Linked DNA regions of Homo sapiens. The protein of the gene in region 2 purifies or fractionates together with the protein of the main gene of each other region. This does not show direct contact. Each region holds a gene or a part of one and is shown on either strand. Other genes may lie near its edges.

The links. The genes of interacting proteins can lie anywhere in the genome.
Region 1: the proteins of LPGAT1 (region 2) and VIPR2 purify together in Homo sapiens (co-immunoprecipitation; one large-scale study listed by IntAct). This does not show direct contact.

Annotation. Positions count from the first base shown.
Region 1 is NC_000007.14:159,138,248-159,141,900, forward strand, and holds part of VIPR2 (vasoactive intestinal polypeptide receptor 2 isoform 1 precursor), read right to left. Parts: intron 1-3,653. UniProt on the Homo sapiens protein: G protein-coupled receptor activated by the neuropeptides vasoactive intestinal peptide (VIP) and pituitary adenylate cyclase-activating polypeptide (ADCYAP1/PACAP).
Region 2 is NC_000001.11:211,824,162-211,827,814, forward strand, and holds part of LPGAT1 (acyl-CoA:lysophosphatidylglycerol acyltransferase 1), read right to left. Parts: intron 1-3,653. UniProt on the Homo sapiens protein: Lysophospholipid acyltransferase involved in fatty acyl chain remodeling of glycerophospholipids in the endoplasmic reticulum membrane.

The sequences.
Region 1 (3,653 bases), on a different chromosome or scaffold from region 2:
ACTGTCTGGTTTCCTCTGACAAAGAGAAACAAGCAAGAAGGGGTTAGGTGTAAAATGGGTTGTGATTAACCATATCCCACATGACACAACCGACACAGGAATGAGAAAGTGGGCTAAAATAGTGTCATTTGGTCATAGGAGATGGTGATTCCCATTTTATATGAGTGGCTTGAAGTTAACCCTCAAATGCTGGTGAAATATTTTATTCCCACCAACAAAACGGTCACTAGAACATTGTTTGTAGTAGCAAAATACTGTCGGCTACCTAAAAGTCCATGGACCTGGGAGAGACTAAAGAAACACATTAGAATACTATAGCAGCTCTTAAAGAGAATATAAGAACAAATGCAAAACAGTTGCCAAATACATTGTTACACTGAAATACAAAACAGAAAAGAAAAGCAAGATGCCGAGCACATGTGTGAAGAGTATGCCAGCTTCCACGTGTCTGGAAGGAAAAGCGGGGTCTACCCACGTGTGGACGTGTGCGCACCCCAACTCTCCAGGGGCAACTTGGGGCTGGCAGCAGTGAAGTCTGTAGAGACATTTCCCATTATATACATTTTTGAACAGAATTTTTCTATGTGCATATTAGATATATATATGTATATCACTTAATTTCTACTGTGAGAATTTTCATTAATTTGTTCAGCAAAAGCTTTTAAAATATCTCTCTAGATGCTAAGTTCTGTGTGAGACTTGGGAGAAGCAGCAGAAACATGATGCCATCTCCTCTGGGCACTGGAGGAGAAGGACCAAGAAATCACACAGTGAGTTATGATCACGAAAGTCACAGGATGCTGTGGGACAGGAAAGGAAGCACATTTCCATCCTACTCAGCAGCCACCAGTCCTTGCTTTAGGAGTTCATTCCCCCAAGTATGATAGAGAATATGTTTCTCTGACATAAGTCATCCTTCTTTCTGAGGATGTTTGTATAGCAAACAACCTAGGAGAGTTCGATAATTAAGATAATTACAATACCATCTCTCTCTGTAACAAAGGCTGGGGATTTGCCAGCAGCCTCCTTTTGACACTGGGGGTTTCCTAAGCCAGTTCTCCTCAGCTACAACACAAATGCACTGCATCGGAGGGGGCCGCTCCCACTGCTCCTGGGGGGCTTGAGAAGCAGAGGGAACCCGTGCGCACACGCAGCTCATGATGCCTGCTGTGCTGTGAACAGCAAGTCTCTTGTCTCTGGCCCAGCATCTCACGTCTTCTGCAGCATCTGCAAAACTGTGGCAGGCGACGTTGTTAGCCTGCAAGTGGGGAATGACCTCAAACCCTCCATAGTTCCTGACATGTAGATCGAAATTAGTTCAGCATCCATTGTTTTAAAAAAAATCAAAGAAAAGTTAGTTTTTAAGCCTAGCACTTTCCATGGCCTGGTCTAAGCTGACATTCACAGTCAGATCCATTTCAGCCATGCGCCTCTGAAGGATGTCTCAGAACAGTGAGCTCCCAGAACACATAGAGACCACCTCTGCTTCTCCCCAGAGGAGGTCACACCCCTCCAGACGCGGGTGTAAGAATGATATAAAGTCACACGAAAGTTCCTATCCAGCCTGTGCCTAGGCAGGAAGCCTGGACAAAGCCCCCTCAGGGACCTGTGCCTTCCACCTGCGAGTTGGCATGGGCCATGGAAACAGGGCTGGATCTCGGCTCTGAGGCCGGGAGTGCCTCATACACATATCGGCAAGAGAAAGCTTGTCTTAGTGATGCATCGATGTTAAGTCATACAGCTCCAAATAACTCCTAAGCTTACAAAGAGAATCCCGTAAGAGAGCTTAGAATTGAAATTGGTTTCTGTCTGGATTTACGTGTTTTTTTGTTTTTGTTTTTTTTTTAGATTCAACATGTAATAAAGAGAAACATTTCCAAATCAGACTTACACAAATTACCTCATTGGAATTGGAAGCTAGATTTTTTTCACCTCATTTCTGGCACTCTTTCACACAAATTTCTTAATCGTATGGATTTAAAAGTGGCTGTAACAGACCCTCAGTATCTCATCTCACCTGGCGTCAGGTGCAAATGCACACTGTTGTCTCGTGGAGTCACTCAGCCCATCTAATCAGACGCCTGCCTCAGCCTCAGCCTGTAGATTCCGGTTCACATCGCTGATAGCATCTTTATTCTGGTAACTTACTTCTATTTACATCCCTGGCATTTGAGCCACGCATATTTCAAAGAGTACAGAAAAACAAAAGAGTGGCCAGGCTGAGGCCCCGGCATGCTGCTGCTTCTCTCCTGAAGGGCAGTGTCTTGTTACCAAGTACTTCGTGCAAGTCAAAAAGGTAAAACAGATCAGATACAGATATTTTTCCTACAGAGCTGACACTGGAAATAAGAGCCTTCAATATGAGATGTCCAGGTAGACACCTTGTCGCTGCAAGAAAGCCGAGTGACAAGTTTCCCAACCAACGCTGCCTGCGAGGGGCTCTCGGGCCTGCATATGAACCCGCTCAAGCTGGCGTGGGGCTGAGTGACTGCCTGGGACCTGCGGCCCCTAGCGCCCGATATGACTCACACACGGACTGCCCACTGAGGGGGAGCCCCTGTGAATAGTGTAAATGTGCTGACCTGCCTTTGGGTGAGGGTGTTCCAGGAGGCGTCGCCAATCTCAGGTTAAGCTAGGGTCCAGCTACCGTGCAGAGAGCCATCAGATGGCTCCAGGCTCCCTCAAAATCTTTTTTTTTTAATGTATTGTTTGCAAACTTTTAAGAAAGTGGAATATTTTATATAAATCTGCATTTCTAATATCCCATGAAAACAGGAAGCTGGACAATTTGGAACTTGGAGGTGAGGAGGGCAACCCTAAAAGCCTGTCTCTCCTCAGGACTACCTTTCCTAACTCAGAACTTTCACTGGAAGAAGGACCTCCCATGGCCACGCTGCTGCTTCTGCCGTGGCAGACTGGCTGCCTCCTCCATCCACATCTCCTGGGCCGCATCAGCATTTCCCAGGACAGACTCTCAGCATGGCTTCAGCCAAGTTACTTTATTTGCCTTTCTCTGGACAGAGTTCAACCAGACAATCTGGAAGATGGGCCAGAACCATGCGTGCACCGCGGAATCGCAGATCTTTACAGCCGGAAGAAGCCTCGGAGGCAGAGCCTGCACGTTTCAGACCAAGAAACGGTGGCTCAGAGGGGGATGGGAACGGGCAGGGACACCTGTTTTAGTGACAATCTACAGCCCATTGTCCAGCGTGGAGACCGCTGGCCGCCTGTGGCTACTGGACCTTGAAATGGGGCCCAAACTGTGTCGTGCTGTAAGCACAAAAAACACACTGGACTTCTACAACTTAGCATCAAATAAGAATGCAAAATTAATAACTTCAGGTTGATTATACGTTGAAATGTTAACGATTCAGATTTATTCAGGTAAATAAAGGATACTATTAAAATTAATCTCTCATGCTTCTTTTTACTCATTGTAATGTGGCTTGCATTCTGTTGCTGCTGGGCAGGGCTATTCTTGAATAAAGCCCACCATCTGAGGCCCTCTACAGGACAACAGACTGTTTTAACACAGATTTAATTTCTTTCTTGAAGAGGAGAAAATCATGACAAAGAGCAGAGAAAGCTGAGGGACAAAGGCCTTGCTACTATTTATAGGCCGGGTGCTATCCCAGGGCAGAGTCTATAAACAG
Region 2 (3,653 bases):
CAAGGTGGGCGGATCACTTGAGGTCAGGAGTTCAAGACCAGCCTGGCCAACATGGTGAAACCTTGTCTCTACTAACAATACAAAATTAGCCGGGCACGGTGGTGGATACCTGTAATCCCAGCTACTCGGGAGGCTGACACATGAGAATCACTTGAACCTGAGAGAGAGAGGTTGTCGTGAGCCAAGACTGTGCCACTGTACTCCAGGCTGGGCAATAGAGTGAGACTGTCTCACAAAAAAATAAAAAAGGATCATTCAAGAACTAGACACTTACTGAGTACTCTGTGAGCATCAGGTAACAAATCAGACCCTAGGGTTATAAGGAAGATCCATCAAGTGGGCCCAGAGTAGGTAAGGATCTCACCCCTACCAGTGATAACAGATTTAAAGTTAAAGCTAGACCACTGACTCCCAGAGTTTTCCAAAATCCCAGTGCTCTTTCCACTAGAACAATGCCTCTCAAATGTTGACTGCACTTATAGTAAAAAATACATTCTGAAGCACCACTCAGTATAAACACATGCATTTCTGATATATTCTATTGAATTCTATTTTATTTCACATTCTTAAAATGTTCATCTTCACATACTAAATTGGTTTTACGGCTCAAAGGTTACAAGACATTGCTCTCGAAATACATTTTTGAAACTTTCCGTAGAATTTCAAAGTCAGAAATAATTCCTAAAAATTACTTTTTGTCACACAATGAATATGTATCCCTCCCCGAAAAGCAGGACACTATCAAATAATCACATAACCCAGAAAGACAGGGCAGCTGTCAGTTGGGGAGCAGGAGGTAACTAAACGTAATCTCCATCAGCTTTCCCTAAAGCCCCCCCCAAATAATGCCCCAATTTAAGGAAAACTGTTTGCTACGTAAAAACAGCTTGGCAGCAAGTCCCCTGGCATTTCAGCTCCCTTCCAGCCAGACTTTGGCCCATGACTCTCTCTCACCCTATATAAAAATAAAAATTCTGGAGTTTCTATTAACAGTAAATATTTTTAAAGTATTTCATGCACAGTCTTCTTTTTTTTTTTTTTTTTTTTTTTTTTGAGACAGGTCTCTGTCGCCCAGATTGGAGTGCAGTGGCATGATCACAGCTCACTGTAACCTCGAACTCCTGGGCTCATGTGATTCTCCCACCTTGGCTTCCCAAGTTGTTAAGATTACAGGCATAAGCCACTGTACCTGGCTAAGACTTTAATTAAATGTGTTTGGATGACAATTCCTTTATTAAAATAAGTAAATGAAAATAAAAATAAACTATTTTAAATAAATAGAATACATTTTGTTTGGTATGAAATCTTTCTCTGACATTTACCAATCATCACTTAAACTCCGGGGGGTGGGGTACTGATTTATCCTAGATCCAAATAAAGCATGCAGAAGTGGATCATTAGTTAAGCTAGTATCTCTTTTGGTTTGCCCTTGAAATATTAAGACAAAGGCAATATAAAGCATTTCCTCAACGTGAGATATCTGTACAGCACTTCCTACTAAAGAAAATGTGAAAACAGGCCAGGGGCGATGGCTCACGCCTATAATCCCAGCACTCTGGGAGGCCAACGTGGGCGGATCACAAGGTCAGGAGTTTGAGACCAGCCTGGCCAACATAGTGAAACCCCCATCTCTACTAAAAATACAAAAATTAGCTGGGTGTGGTGGCACACGCCTGTAGTCCCAGCTACTCAGGAGGCTGAGGCAGGAGAATCGCTTGAACTCGGGAGGCGGAGGTTGCAGTGAGCTGAGACTACACCATTGCACTCTGGCCTGGGCAACAGAGCAAGACTCCATCTCAAAAAAAAAAAGGAAAATGTGAAAACAACAATCATTACTACTTTAGTAGCAAGCCGGGGATGAACAAACCCCAGTGTCTTCAGAGTACTTTTTAAAATGTGTAACTTAAAGTCAGAAACAGACCAGAAAATCCCTTTTCCATCTTCTGTGCCTACAGACAGTTCCCCAGCTCTGAGAATGCAAACTAAAGTATAAGAATGTTCATTTAAGTTCTTGGGCTTACTGGCCTCACCATTACTCATCCAAGAAGCATGTATGAATTTACAGGGCTCATTTTTGTGATGAGTTAAGAGATAGTTTAATAAAACTTTAATAAATCTTCTTGTCTTTCACAAAAAAAATCTGTTTAGAACTAAGGAAAGATTTTTTAATAAAAATAAAATTTAGTTTTCCTAAGAAAAGAAAACCATGCTTACTATATCAGCTTTGTCCAGTAGTACTTGCTGTGATGATAGAAGTGTTCTGTATCTGCACTGTCCATACAGTAGCCACTAGCCACCTAGTACTGAGCACTTGAAATGTGGTTGGTGTGCCTGAGGAGCTAAATGCTAAATTTTATTTCATTTTAATTAATTTAAATTTAAACAGTGACATGCAGCCAGTGGCTACTATATGGGGCTGTGTAGGTTAGATAATCAACATAAGTCCTCATCAGCAGAGCTGAGTAATTCACTCATATTACACGGAATGTCATAATTTGGAAAAAGATATATATATATATATATATTCATTCTATACCAATATACCAATATTCAATTTTTAGCTTCCTAATTAGTATTTAAGGTTTCCTCATAAGTGGTTTCTCAACAAAGTTTTGGCAATTTTTATTCTAAAACATGAACATACTTAATCTGCTGAGCAGAATTCCTTTGGCAATGTTCAATTTTCCATCTGTGAAACTTGGGCATAGGGAAAAAAGAACTTCTTCACAAGCCCACCCTCCTATTGATGTAAAGGGAAGAAGTGAAATATATTATCTAAAGAAAGGCTAATATAACACCTGACATTATTTTATGGGTACACCTGTTCATCAACCTCTGCTTAGATGTGCTTCTTTAAACTCAGCTGAGGCTTTCAACCAAATTCATTCCTACATTTGTTTGACTTCTTGACTATTTTCTTTTATGATCAGACTATGACCAGGCTCTCTGAAATCAAGTATTCTACCTATAGGAAAACCTTTTAAAATATATACATTAAAACAGTCTATATTTAAATGAGACAAACTGATCAAATTGTCAAAATTCAGTAGCCTGAAGAAGAGCAGATGCTTCAGAGAGACTAAAATATGCAGATCATGCCAAGACCACATTCCAAGCAGGTGGCAAAAGAAATTACACAGTTCTATAGTCAGCAAGGAAGAGATACCCCAAGAAAATATGCTGAAAAATACATTGCAGCTATGCTATGGCCATAGGACAACTAACTTTGACTTCAAGCAGCACCACTGCACTCCCAATCTCAAGGTCAATGCCAAATTAATTTTACCTTCCCACCATGCTAACAATTAAATACACTATACACACGCACAAACATTTCAGTAATTTCATTTTAAGCAGAATGAACTTCTAGAACGGGTTTCTGAAAATACTATAAGCTAATTTAAAACAAGCAAACTTAAGTATACTATACAAGAATAAAGCCACTAGTACCATATAACATATATTTGGGAACACTCAAACTATACCAAGCCAAGCAACTCTAAGACAGCAGTGCAATTCAGGTAAGAATTCAGCACCATAGATTAGAACTTCGTTTTTTCTCTACCACTGCTATTGCTACCACCAAGTCCTAAAAAAGGGCTAGAAGCACACCTACTATATCCAAAAAGCATTGGAATCTCAACAAGACAGAT